Linked DNA regions of Homo sapiens. The protein of the gene in region 1 interacts with the protein of each later gene in a pairwise test. Each region holds a gene or a part of one and is shown on either strand. Other genes may lie near its edges.

Region 1 (7,110 bases):
GAAGTCGAGGCTGTGGTGAGCCGTGATCGTGTCACTGCACTCCAGCCTGAGTGACAGAGTGAGACCCTGTCTCAAAAAAAAGAAAAAAAATCATTAGTTGGACCCATCCCTTTACCCAGCGTTCCCCTCTAGCCACCATCCCACTTCTCAGTTCCTCGTTCTCTGCCCCTGATGGTTATCTGTACTTGCTGTTTCATCTTTGTCATCTCTTTTTTTCTTTTTTTTTTTTTGAGACAGAGTCTCGCTCTGTCACCCAGGCTGCAGTGCAGTGGCGCGATCTCAGCTTACTGCAAGCTTTGCCTCCTGGGTTCACGCCATTCTCCTGTCTCAGCCTCCCGAGTAGCTGGGACTACAGGCACCCGCCACCATGCCCAGCTAATTTTTTGTATTTTTAGTAGAGACGGGGTTTCACTGCGTTAGCCAGGATGGTCTCGATCTCCTGACCTCACGATCCACCCACCTCGGCCTCCCAAAGTGCTGGGATTACAGGCCACTATTAACTTATTGTCAAAATACATCACTCTCTAGGATCCTGACACTACACTTGCCCTGTTTCCCCTTCCACTTTACTGGATGCTCTTTTCCAGTCTCCCTTGCTTGTTCTTCCTCTCTACCATCTCTAAACAATGCTGTATTTTAGGGTTGCATCCTCTGCTGCTGCTGTTTCTTTGTCTTCTCTCTGCTCAGTTTATCCTGCTCCATGCTTTTAAAATTCATCTACAGTTGATACTCATTATTTGCAGATTCTGTATTTATGAATTTGCCTACTTGCTAAATTAATTTGTAATCCCCAAATCAATATTTACACTGCTTCTGTGGTCATTCATGTACATGCACAATTAGTGAAAATGTGTCTTCTGATGCTCTCGATCTCAACTGAGGGTGAATAAGGTGATGCTCTATCTTTTTGTTTCAGCTCTCATGCTGAAACAGTCTATTTAGTGCTACATTTTTTTTTGTATTTTTGTGCCTTTTATTTGTGATTTTGCTGTTTACAGTGGCCCCCAACTATAGGCTGAAGTGTTATCTAGTATTCCTAAGTGCAAGAGGACTGTAATGTGCCTTATGGAGAAAATATATTTATGAGACAAGCTTCATTCAGGCATGAGTTAGTGCCGTTGGCTATGAGTTCAATGCTAATGAATAAAATATATATATTAAATAAAGTTTCTTTAATCAGAAACACACATAAAAACAAGATTATATATTGATCAGTTGATGAAAATATGACTATTTACAACAGTTGCAGGAACCTAACTCTGTATTTTCCCTAGGAACAATTGTTCAGTATTTGCTAATTCATTGTTCATGGTGACTTTATAGAACAGGACTACTGTGAATAAGAATCAACTATATATATTATCGGATCTAATTTATATGTTTGAACTCCGTACTCATATATTCTACTACTCTTCAACTCTATGTTTGGATGTTTAATAGGTATTTAAACTTAACATGTCCCAGACAGAACTCATGTTCCCTTCCAAAATCTTTCCAATCTCAATACATTGTACAATTAGTTATCTATCCCATGCACAGGTCAGAAGCCTAAGAGTCATCCTTCATTGTTATTACGCCTGACATAAGTACTGATACTCTGTCATCAAGTCCTGTCAATTCTAGTTTCTGTATATATCTTGAATCCAAGTGTTGATCGCTATCTTACATATAGCCCCAGTCCAAACTACATCTCTTACCTAAGCTACTGCAATAGCTTCCTAACCGATCTCCCTGCCTCCATTCTACCCTTCTGCCCATGTAGATCCTCTACGTAGAAGCCAGAGTGAGCTTTCAAAAGCACAAATTGTATCATGTGACTCCATTGCAACCAGAATAAAGTTCAAACTCCAAGCAATGGTCCTCTATCATCTGGCACCCAACTGTTCTCTGACATCATCTCTCCATGCTTTGTTTTCTGTGTTCCCTCCTCATCAGCCCTTGTCCTGTTCCTTAAGAATACCAAGCTTGCATCTTTCTTGGGACCTTTCTGTTTACTGCTATTTCCACTACAATGCTCCTCCCTCATTTTCATGACTGCTTTCTTTACATCACTCAGATCTTTCCAATGTGGCTACTTTTTGAGCAGCTCTCCTATTCATTCCTTTAATATTGCCCTTTTTATTTGCATGCTTGTTGCCTGTCTTCCCCAGGTAGAATGAAATTTTCTTAAAGACAGAAAACTTTATCTTTTTTTTTTTTTGAGATGGAATTTCGCTCTTGTTTTCCAGGCTGGAGTGCAATGGCACAATCTCGGCCCACTGCAACCTCCGCCTCCTGGATTCAAGCAATTCTCATGCCTCAGCCTTCCTAGTAGCTGGGATTACAGGCGTCTGCCACCATGCTTGGCTAATTTTTGTATTTTTAGTAGAGACAGGGCTTCACCATGTTGGCCAGACTGGTCTCAGACTCCTGACCTCAAGTGATCCACCCACCCTGGCCTCCCAAAGTGCTGCTGGGATTAGAGACGTGGGCCACTGCGCCCAGCCAGGATCCTCAGTATCTTTAGATATTATTTTAATAATATTCTTATACATCATAGAGTTTCAGTAAATAGTTACTGACTTGACTCTTGATTAACTGGGGACTCTGATAAAGTATCATACATGGTTGACTGGTAGAAAATGAATTAGGTTCCGATAAAGAGAAAAAGAGAAAAGAAAACAGTAATTTGTTTAAAACAAACCTAAAACAAACAGAAACCCCTAATACTATGTCACCATATATACAGTTATTGTTTAGTTCTATAATAATTTTTCAATAAGTAAATTATAACTAGGTAAATATGAACATTAAAATTTAATACCTCTTTGACTTGTGCCTGGTATAATTTGTTATTTGAATTGTAAAGGATGCTAATTTTATCTACCTCTTTTGATCAGGAATAGTTATCTAATAACTACAGCCTGTTTTCTTAATGGAAAATTGATATTAATTGTTCCTCTGTTAGGAAGAAGAAAGCATGTAGGCCATTTTGAAGCACAAATACAGTTTAGAGTCCTTAAAAATGGTGTTAGCATCATGGATTTATGTGACCACATGATTGTCAACTCACATCTTTTGGAACTTAGTCTAGGCATTTATAAAGCAAATTATTTTACATATTAAGCTTAAAAATGGTAGAGTAAGTAAGATAATCTCTAAGCATTAAATTCATGATCTATAGGACAACCAGGTTATCAGCAAGCAGAATGGAGTGAGTTCAGATATATAGAATCTTAAGTTGGAGGGAATTTTGCTCCCGTGAGCCATAGTACAGTGAATAAATTAAGTGTAATCTGGATTAGAACTGAATACCAAGACAGACAGACGTTTGACGATGTTTGTGATGTCCTGATGTTCTTTAATCATATATCTGATATTCTTATATTCTATTCCCTTCAGGCTGGCCCTCACTGCCTTGAATAAATTTGAAGAAGCAGTTACAAGTTATCAAAAGGCATTAGATCTTGACCCTGAAAATGATTCCTATAAGTCAAATCTGAAAATAGCAGAACAGAAGTTAAGAGAGGTATCCAGTCCTGTAAGTTGTTAATGCCAAATGAGTGAAGTATTTTCTGTCATTCACAATTTATTGTAATTGTAGATACTGGACTGATTCTCAGATATAATTGTTTTACAGACAGGAACTGGACTGAGCTTTGACATGGCTAGCTTGATAAATAATCCAGCCTTCATTAGTATGGTGAGTATACTTTCTTTTCTGCCTCTACTGGCTATGTTTTCCATAGACTATGTAGCTATGCAATTTTTTTTAGAAACAAGTGAGTTTTTGTGGTGGTGGTTGTAGTGGAGTATTGATATAAGGCTATAGCAGGGTTCTGTTTTTTTATTTCCAACTTTTATTTCAAGTGCAGGGGTAAATGTGCAGGATGTGCAGGTTTGTTACATAGGTAAAACGTCTGCCATGGTAGTTTGCTGCACAGATCCTCCCATTACCCAGGTATTAAGCCCAGCATCTATTAGCTGTTCTTCGTGATCCTTCCTCTCCTCCCATCCTCTGCCCTCCAACAGGCCCCAGTGTGTGTTGTTCCCCTACATGTGTCATTGTGTTCTCATCATTTGGCTCCCACTTGTAAGTGAGAACATGTGTTATTTGGTTTTCTTTTCCTGTGTTAGTTTGTTAAGTAAAATGGTAAAATGGCCTCCAGCTCCATCCATGTCCCTGCGAGGGACATAATCTTATTTCTTGTTTTGGCTGCATAGCATTCCATGGTGTATATGTACCGCATTTTCTTTATCCAGTCTATCATTGATAGGCATTTGCATTGATTCCATGTCTTTGCTATTGTGAATAGTGCTGCAGTGAACATACGTACGAATGTGTATTTACAGTAGAAAGATTTCTATTCCTTCGGGTATATACCCAGTAATGGGATTGCTGGGTCGAATGGTATTTCTGCTTCTAGGTCTTTGAGGAATCACCACACTGTCTTCCACAATGGTTGAACTAATTTACATTTCCACCAACAGTGTTAAAAGCATTCCTTTTTCTCCACAACTTCGCCAGCATCTGTTGGTTTTTGTTTTTTTTGTTGTTGTTGTTGTTTGTTTGTTTTTTGAGACAGAGTTTCACTCTTGTCACCCAGTCTGGAGTGCAATGGTGTGATCTTGGCTCACTGCAACCTCCACCTCCTGGGTTCAAGCGAATCTCCTGCCTCAGCCTCCTGAGTAGCTGGGATTATAGGCACCCACAACCATGCCTGGCTAATTATTGTATTGTCAGTAGAGATGGGGTTTCACCATGCTGACCAGGCTAGTCAAATGACCTCTGGTGATCCGCCTGCCTCAGCCTCCCAAAGTGCTGGGATTACGGGCATGAGCCACCACACCTGGCCTGTTTTTGAGTTTTTAATTATAGTTGTTCTGACTTGTGTGAGATGGTATCTCATTGTGGTTTTGATTTGCATTTCTCTAATGATCAATGATGTTGAGCTGTTTTTTCATATGTTTGTTGGCCACATATATGTCTTCTTTTGAGAATTGTCTGTTCATTTCCTTTGCCCACTTTATAATGGGGTTGTTTTTTTCTTGTAAATTTGTTTAAGTTCTTATAGATGTAGGATATTAGACCTTTGTCAGATAGATAGATTGCAAAAATGTTCTCCCATTCTGTAGGTTGTCTGTTTACTCTGTTGATTGTTTCTTTTGGTGTGGAAAAGAAACTCTTTAGTTTAATTAGATCCCATTTGTCAATTTTTTCTTTTGTTGCAATTGCTTTTGGCATCTTCATCATGAAATCTTTGCCTGTGTCTATGTCCTGAATGATATTGCCTCGGTTTATAGAGTTCTTATAGTTTTGAGTTGCACATTTAAGTCTTTAATCCATCTTGAGTTGATTTTTGTATATATATGGTATAACGAAGGGGTCCAGTTTCAATTTTCTCCATATGGCTAGCCAATTCTCTCAGCAACACTTATTAAATAGGGAATCCTTTCCCCATTGCTTTTGCCAGGTTTGTCAAAGATCAGATGGTTGTGAGTGTGCAGTCTTATTTCTGGGTTCTCTGTTCTGTTCCACTGGTCTATGTGTCTGTTCTTGTACCAGTACCATGCAGTTTTGGTTATTGTAGCCCTGTAGTACAGTTTGAAATTGGGTAGCATGATGCCTCAGCTTTGTTCTTTTTGTTTAGGATTGCCTTGGATGTTTGGGCTCTTTTTTGGTTCCATATGAATTTTAAAATAGTTTTTTCTAATTCTGTGAAGAATGTCAATGGTAGTTTAATGGGAATAGCATTGAATCTATAAATTGCTTTAGGCAATATGGCCATTTTCACGATTTTGATTCTTCTATCCATGAGCATGGAGTGTTTTTCCACTTGTTTCTGTTCTCTCTTATTTCCTTGAGCAGTGGTTTGTAGTTCTCCTTGAAGAGTTCCTTCACTTTGCCTGTTAGCTGTATTTCTAGATATTTTATTCTTTTTATGGCAATTGTGAATGCGAGTTCATTTGTGATTTGACTTTCGACTTGCCTGTTGTTGGTATGTAGGAATGCTAGCAATTTTTGCACATTGATTTTGTATCCTGAGACTGTGCTGAAGTTGCTTATCAGCTTAATAAACTTCTCGACTGAGACAATAGGGTTTTCTAGATATAGGATCCTGTCATCTGCATATAGGGATAATTTGACTTCCTCTCTTCCTATTTGAATATGCTTTATTTCTTTATTGTGCTTCATTTCCCTGGCCAAAACTTCCAATACTATTAATTTGTTGAATAGGAGTGATGAGAGAGGGTATTTTGTCTTGTGCTGGTTTTCAAGGGGAACACTTCCAGCTTTTGCCCATTCAGTATGATATTGGCTGTAGGTTTGTCATATATGGCTTTTATTATTTTGAGGTATGTTCCTTCAATATCTAGTTTATTAAGAGTTTCTTATATGAAAGGATGTTGAATTTTCTTGAAGGCCTCTTCAGCATCTATTGAGATAATCATGGGGTTTTTGTCTTTAGTTCTGTTTATGAGATGAATCACATTTATTGATTTGCATATGTAGAAACAGCCTTGCATCTTGGGGATGAAGCCTCCGTGATTGTGATGGGTAAGCTTTTTGATGTGCTGCTTGGATTCAGTTTGCCAGTATTTTGCTGAGGATTTTTGTATCAATGTTCATCAAGGATATTGGCCTGAAGTTTTCTTTTTTGTTATTGTATCTCTGCCAGGTTTTGGTATCAGGATGATGTTGGCCTCATAGAATGAATTAGGGAGGAGATCCTCCTTTTCAATTTTTTAGAATAGTTTCTGTAGGAACGGTACCAGCTCTTCTTTGTACCTCTGGTAGAATTCAGCTGTGAATTCGTCTGGTCCTGGGCTTTTTTTTTTTTTTTTGGTTGGTAGGCTATTTATTAGTGCCTCAATTTCAGAACTCATTATTGGTTTATTCAGGGATTCAATTTCTTCCTGGTTCAGTCTTGGGAGGATGTATGTGTCCAGGAATTTATCAAGTTCTTCTAGAAATTCATTAGTAAAATTTCTAGTTTATGCGCATAGGACTGTTTATACTATTCTTTGATGGTTGTTTGTATTTCTGTGGGGTCAGTGGTAATATCATTTTTGATTGTGTTTGTTTGAATCTTCTCTCTTTTTTCTTCATTAGTATAGCTAGCGGTCTAT
Region 2 (7,000 bases), on another chromosome or scaffold:
TGCTAAGTGAGTAGAAGGACAGCAAAGGAAGGAAAGTGACAAGTTTGAGGGAGGCAAGAAAGCAAGGATAGAAGGAGCAAGACAAGATGGAGGCAGTGGGCAGGTGGGAGGAAGAGGCCCACCTGAAAGGGCACGTCAGCCATGGTCTTGGCCAGGTAATACGCTTTGAGGCTGTACCAGTAGTTGAGGTGCTCCCTCATGAAGACCGCCATCTCTAAGGGGACTGAGGACACAGGCTGCTTAGGCACACCCGGCCGACACCCTGGCCCCTGCCCCAAGCCCCAGCACCCACACCCTTGCCCCATGCCCAGGGCAGCTCAGCTCACAGGTGAGCACAGTTGGCATGAGGGCGGCGAACATGAGGAACAGCATGGAGAAGAAGAGGCAGCCGGTGTTGTTGAAGACCTTGCTGGCATCGTCGCCAATATGCAGGTAGAGGAGGCCGATGAGCACGCCAATAACCACGTGGGACATGAACCGTAGGTGGGTCAGGACCTTGGGAGGGGTCATCACCAGGAGAGGGATGTGTTACAGGCCAGGGCAAGCCACAGAGTAGACTTGGAGTAGGAACTCGGAGCTGCCCTCACAGGCACAGAGACCCCACAGGCACATTGCAGGGCTGTGAGGGAGGGTCCCCATTCCCATTTCAGCTGCTGGGATCCTACAGCCCAAAAGGTCAGGCCTGTGCCAGCCTCCTCTCCCCCAGCCTGACGCCTCACCGTGTCCCTGAGGATGGACAGGAAGGTCCTCTTGAAGAGGATGCAGAACTGTGTGAGGGTGCTGGTGGCAAAGGTGTGGCTTTCAATGGGATCCACTTCCTGGGAAGAAGAAATTGGATCGGGATCAGGTGAGCCTACCCCATTCACCCACAGAACACCCAGCTCAGTGAATGAAAAACCTCAGAGCTCTTCCCCAGGGTAGGGGTCCTCCAGGTCTACAGAGAATCTTGTACCATTAAGTTGTGTACCTGAAAGCTAGGCTTAGGGGTATGAATCAGAGCAAGATTCAGACACAAAAAGGGGGCAAAAACTTGGGAGGGAGGAGATGGAAAGAAAGTAATGGACACCCGTGGTGGCTAATAATAGATCGGTTACTTTTTTAATCCATCAAAACACATGAACTCTAAGGGTATAATTCCTTTTTTGTTTTGTTTTGGGTTTTTTTTGTTTTGTTTTGTTTTGTTTTTGAGACGGAGTCTCGCTCTGTCGCCCAGTCTGGAGTGCAGTGGCGCAATCTCAGCTCACTGCAAGCTCCGCCTCCCTGGTTCACGCCATTCTCCTGCCTCAGCCTCCCGAGTAGCTGGGACTACAGGCGCCCGCCACCACGCCCGGCTAATTTTTGTATTTTTAGTAGAGATGGGGTTTCACCGTGTTAGCCAGGATGGTCTCCATCTCCTGACCCACCCGCCTCGGCCTCCCAAAGTGCTGGGATTACAGGCGTGGGCCACTGTATCCGGCCAGGTATAATTCCTTTATGCCACCAATTTTACAGTAATGTTATTTAATAATGATGATAATGACAACAATAACAACAAAAACTAATCAATCTGGTTTTCAGGGGTTACAGTGTCTCATTTAAGGAAGAGAACTAGCACTGGGCAGACGCCTGCTGTACCAGCTACAGTGCTAAGAGCTTTATGTGATTATCTAATTAGTCCTCCCAATCACCCTGTGAGGTGAGTATCATCATCTCTAAGTTAGAGAGAACAGTAAGCCACACTGGCCACTAAGCTGGGGACCATGTTGATCTTGCTTACCAGATGGGCACTATGCCAGGACCGAGGACAGCACACTGTAGCTGCTCAACAAGAACTTGCTGAATGAATAAGTCAATGAGGAAACTGGAGCTCAAGGAGGTTAAATAATGTGCCTAAGGTCACAGTGCTGTTCCTAGTAGGTCGATTCCAAGTCCTAGGTTCTTCCTAGCACCCATTGGTTGCAATGCCTCTGGGGAACAGCCTCTTTGGCAGGGCCACTGTCCATGGTCCAGTCTCCCCTCCCCAACTATGCCTGCTCTGCCCTCTCCACCCCTACTCACCGGAGGACAAGGAGGGCATGGGGCAGGGACCTCGTTCTTCTCAGGGCTGCTCTTCTTCTCAGCCATAGCGCACAGCCCATTCTGCACAGCCCTGAACAACATGGGGTTCAGGTCTCCATACTCGCCAGAGGCCACCTCGATGACTGGGGACACAGAGTGGAGAGCTCAGTTTAGATTCACACTCACTTCCCAAGGGCAAGTCAGTCCCGCCTTGGGTGTGTGGGGAAGGCAGGCGACGGTGAGATCTCTACCCCTAGGAGGCCTGAGTGCAAGACCAGAGACCCCAGGTTCGGCCCACTGCTGTTTCCCAGCCCCTACCAACAGACCCCCACTCACTGAAGTCAGCCGGGTTGTGGTAGGTGGGGCAATGCAAGCCGAGTCCCTTTAGATAGGGGATCAGGTTGGTGACCACGCCTTTGAAGATGCACTGACCCTGGCTCAGGATGTAGAGCTGCAGCAGAAAGAGAAGGGTAAGGAAGGAACAGCGGGCCAGGCACCCCTACTGACCCCCTTCCATCCCTCCATCTCAGGCCAATCCTCCTTGAGGCCTGGAGACACTCACCTTGTCAAACATCTCAAAGAGCTTGGCACTGGGCTGGTGGATGGTGCAGATGATGGTACGGCCCCCCTGTGCCAGGGACTTCATGAGGGACACCACTTGGAAACAAGAGGCGCTATCCAGACCACTGTCCAGAGAGAGGCCACCAGGGGGCCACGTGAGGTGGGTGAGGCCAAAAGAAGGGAGTGTCTGGGGCGGGGCAGCTGCTGTGAAGGGGATGAAGCTGGCAGGAAGAGGGCACTCTGGCCGCATCTGTATCCTTTACGGTTCAGGCACTTGGAGGGATACCCAGAAGCCAAGAGCACTGTTCAGTTTCATAAGCATATATTGAGGACCTGTTGTATGCCAGGCACTGGGATTACAATGATGCATAAATAAGACATAGACTCTGGTCTGGAAGGAGAGAGAGACAAGCACACAGATGATTTTGGGTAATGTGGAAAGTGCTGTAGCAACACTGGGTGAAAGAGGGGGCGGATTCAGCTCAGCTGTAGCAGGTGTTGGAGGGTAGTCAGAGAAGGTTCCTGAGCGAGCCCAGGAGTAAGAGCTAAGCAGGTGAAGGGGAGAGGGCAGGCACAGTGGTGAAGGGCATTCCAGCAGAAGACACAGCATGGGCAAAGCTTAGAGGCATGAAACATGTGGCTTGACCAGGGAATTACAAGCAACTCAGTATTATTAGAGCATAAAGTACATGACTTGAGGCTGGAGAAGTAGGTTCAGACCAGGCCCTTGTAAGTCACCTGACTTTATTTCGAGGACAAGTCAGAAAGGAAACACTGCATGTTTTAAGCAGGGGAGTGAGCACTGCAGACTTGTCTTTAGAAAGTTCACTCTGTCCGGGCACGGTGGCTCACGCCTGTAATCCCAACACTTTGGGAGGCCAAGGCGGGTGGATCACCTGAGGTCAGAAGTTCAAGACCAGCCTGACCAACATGGTGAAACCCCATCTCTACTAAAAATACAAAAACTAGCTGGGTGTGGTGGTACACGCCTGTAATTCCAGCTACTCAAGAGGCTGAGGCAGGAGAATCGCTTGAACCCGGGAGTCAGAGGTTGCAGTGAGCCGAGATTGTGCCACTGCACTCCAGCCTGGGTGACAGAGCGAGACTCCATCTTAAAAAAATAAAAGAAAGTTCACTGTAGCTGCAGTTTGGAGAAAGGATTGACTGGGAGACACTGGAGACAAGCAGATAAGAATCTGTTGCTGTCCTGAACTTAACATCAACATTAGAGATGGGGCAGGGCAAATCTGAGAGATATCAAAAGGAGGCAGAATCAACAGGACTTGGTGACTGATGGCTGAGGGTGACTGGAGAGGGAGGTGTCAATCAAGGAGGACACCTAGATCTCTGCCCAGGCGAAGGATGGGGCAGCTCACAGCAACAGAATTGGCAAGGGTGGAGATGAGGAAGAAGCCCTTATCTTGGCCCCAGGAGGCTGTGAACAGAGGCTCTGGATCATGGAGAAGATGCAGCCTCCAGCCCTGGCTCAGGGCCGAGAGGAGAGGGGTATCCTGGTGGGAAAGGGTGGAGAGAACTACCTGGTGGGCTCATCAAAGAACATGACAGGCGGGTTGTTGACCAGCTCCAGGGCGATGGCCAGACGCTTCCTCTGCCCGCCAGAGAGCAGGGCTGTCCTCGTGTGGGAGCACGACATCAGGCCCAGTGCCGTCAGGATCTCTGTCACCTGGCCCCACCCCACCCATGCCAGGTCAGCTTCGGAGTCTCTGCTTCCCCCAGGCACCACCCCAGCTTCAAAAAGCATCTCCCTTAAGTGCATTGTCTCGGCCTAGGCCACCACTCTCCCACTCCCAGCTCGGGGCCTTGAGCTCAGCAGCACCACAAAAGGGAGTGGTCCCACTGCCTCCCTTCCCCACTCACCAGCTCCTTCTTCACCTCCTGCTTCTCACTCAGCTTCAGGTTAGCAGAGACCTGGGGCCCAGAGAGTAAGCAAGAAAAGTATGTGTGGGAGGGAGCTCTGCCTTGAACCCTCCGCCAATGGTGAAGGTGGCGACAGCAGACAGAGGGGGTTGCTGGGAGGAGGGGTGACTATCCAGCCCTCACCATCATGGCTTCCAACACCGTGAGGTGCGGCAGCAGCATGTCATCTTGCATGATGTAGCAGGACATCTTGCGGAAGGTCCTCAGCTCCCGTGGCCTTCCATTAACCAGGATCTGCCCCTTCATTCCAGACTCCCTGCAGGGATGTGGGTTGAGGATGGGGGTCAATGCCCTTTCAGAATACCTTCTGTGTTCCCCAAGGGATACTTCTTCCTGAGTCCTGCCTCCATTCCACCCCAGTCTCTTCCTTACCTGTATCCTGCCAAGATGTTCATGAATGTAGACTTGCCAGCCCCTGAGGGGCCCATGATGCCAATCAGCTCCCGGCGGCAGAATTTACCTGAGAGGCACTTGAGAAGGGTCTTATAACCTGCAGTGAGGTGGGGAGGAATTTTTAGTCAGGCTGCAGTGAACAGAGGTACCCCCAAAATTCTTAGGAGCAGCCATGGCTATCAGTGAAATAGGTAGCCCCTACTCAGTGTGATTGGGTTAGGATGGAGGAACAACCCTTATAGCCCCGGCAGGAACCCATCCCTCTCATCCCGTCCCCCTAGAAACGACCACCACTAATATCAAAGTACCAGAGGCAACAATCCTCTTCTGAAAGGCGTGGGAAAATCCACACATCTCATGGATGGGCGTGGAGAGGGGATCAAAGCTGTAGAAGACCCTGGTCCTCTTCTGTAATCACAGTGGCCACTGTCTCGCCCCCTCCAGGAAAACTCCCACTACTACAGCCCGAGCTGGCTGCCTATCCCCTGTGTTTCCATAGCACCTCTCCTATGCCAGCATGTTTGTTACTTGATGTGCCTGTCACTTGACCAGCTCTCCCAGCCTCTTAGTCAGTGAGCTCCTTGGGGGCAGTTCTCACTCATCTTGGTAATCTCAGCAGACTGTCTGGCCTGTAGTAGATGTTCAGTAAGTGTCTGTTCCACGAGCGTGAGTTCTCAGAGCTTTTCCCTAATTCAGAAAAAGCCTTCTTCTTTGCGCTCTCTCTGCCTACCAGGCTTGTTTCTCTAGCCCCTACATGGCCCAGTAAAATCTCACCTTTCATTCATTCATTGGAAGGCAGCATATGCATTTAGAGCACGGTTTGGAGTCAGGTGGATCTGGGTTCAAATTCTGGCTCCACACTTACCAGCTGTGTGACCTCGGGCAAGTTGCTTAACCTCTCTGAGCTCCAGGTCCCTCATCTGTAAAATGAGGATGATAGTACCTATCTCATAGGGTTGTTGTAAAGATTCAATGAGATAATATATGTAAAACACATGACACAGTGCTTGGCACATAGAATGCATTAAAAAGTGACATTTTACTATTAATTCTACTTGATAAATGCTTATTGATATCTACTATATACCAAGCTCTGTACCAAACACTGGATAAAAATTGAGGAAGACACAGTTTTTATATTCAAGAAGGTCATAGTCTAAGTAAGACAGAAAAACAAAAAAAATCTATGAAGAAAAATAAAATTAGGGTTATAACAGAAGTACAAAAAATGTGCTGTGAGAACGCAAAGAATGGAATTGACGTGAGTCGGGGGGAAAGAGGAAAATCAAGACTGGCCTCATGGAAGAGGTGGCGTTTGAGCTAAGCCTTGAAGGATGAGCAGGATTCTAAAAGGCAAAGGGAAAGCAGAGGCCTTCTAGGCTTTGGGAGGAAAAGCTCTGTGATATAAAAGTATGTGTATATACACTCACAATCCAAGGAACAGAGGGCAGAGCCTACATGGAGTGACCTGGTGAGACATGGAAGTGGAGGGGAAGGATGAAGCCACCAAGGAGGGCCCTGCCTGCGATGCTGGCAGACCTGCCTCATAGGTGAGGACGTGCCAATCCCTTACCTAGCACCTTGCTCATTGCTGCCCCCTCTAACCCCCACAGAGCCCAAGTCCCTCCCCACTCCACCTCCTTAGTGTCCTTAGTGGAGACAGTGAAGGGATGGCATATTTAACCCTCCCTCCACGACACCCAGGACTGTGTTCTGGGCCCGGCTTTCCCTCTGGATGCTTCCCGTCAGAAGGGGGAGCAGCTCCTGCCCGCTGCCAGGTCCTGATCACAGCAACTGCCTGGATGGTACCCATGGTTTACAAAGCTTCAACTGTTTCTCTAACAACATGGGTGAGGCAACTGGGGCCCAGAGACATCTAGTGACTCACCCAGGGTCACACAGCAAGTTCTTTCCTGGGAGAGGGAAGCCGTGGGCTCTAGCCCTCTGCCTCAGTCCTCCTCGCCATCAATCAGAGACATTTGGTGGCGCACTCCAGCATATGCCTTTCAGAGCCACTCACAGGAAGTGATCTCTTGCAGGAGAAGAAACTGGCAACGACGAACCTTCCCCT

Evidence for each region. Proteins that work in one complex are often made in the same cells at the same time.
Region 2: the proteins of SGTB (region 1) and ABCG4 interact in binary tests that used the Homo sapiens proteins (3 or more experiments, as listed by UniProt).

What each region holds. Positions count from the first base shown.
Region 1 is NC_000005.10:65,677,066-65,684,175, reverse strand, and holds part of SGTB (small glutamine-rich tetratricopeptide repeat-containing protein beta), read left to right. Parts: intron 1-3,381; coding exon 3,382-3,520; intron 3,521-3,619; coding exon 3,620-3,682; intron 3,683-7,110. UniProt on the Homo sapiens protein: Co-chaperone that binds directly to HSC70 and HSP70 and regulates their ATPase activity.
Region 2 is NC_000011.10:119,152,052-119,159,051, reverse strand, and holds part of ABCG4 (ATP-binding cassette sub-family G member 4), read right to left. Parts: intron 5,850-7,000; coding exon of another isoform or gene 5,795-5,849; exon of another isoform or gene 5,284-5,794; coding exon of another isoform or gene 5,238-5,283; intron 5,027-5,237; coding exon 4,909-5,026; intron 4,793-4,908; coding exon 4,660-4,792; intron 4,528-4,659; coding exon 4,477-4,527; intron 4,283-4,476; coding exon 4,137-4,282; intron 2,724-4,136; coding exon 2,600-2,723; intron 2,489-2,599; coding exon 2,374-2,488; intron 2,181-2,373; coding exon 2,038-2,180; intron 819-2,037; coding exon 720-818; intron 496-719; coding exon 327-495; intron 224-326; coding exon 123-223; intron 1-122. UniProt on the Homo sapiens protein: ATP-dependent transporter of the ATP-binding cassette (ABC) family that may be involved in the cellular efflux of sterols, in particular cholesterol and desmosterol (a cholesterol precursor), to high-density lipoprotein (HDL).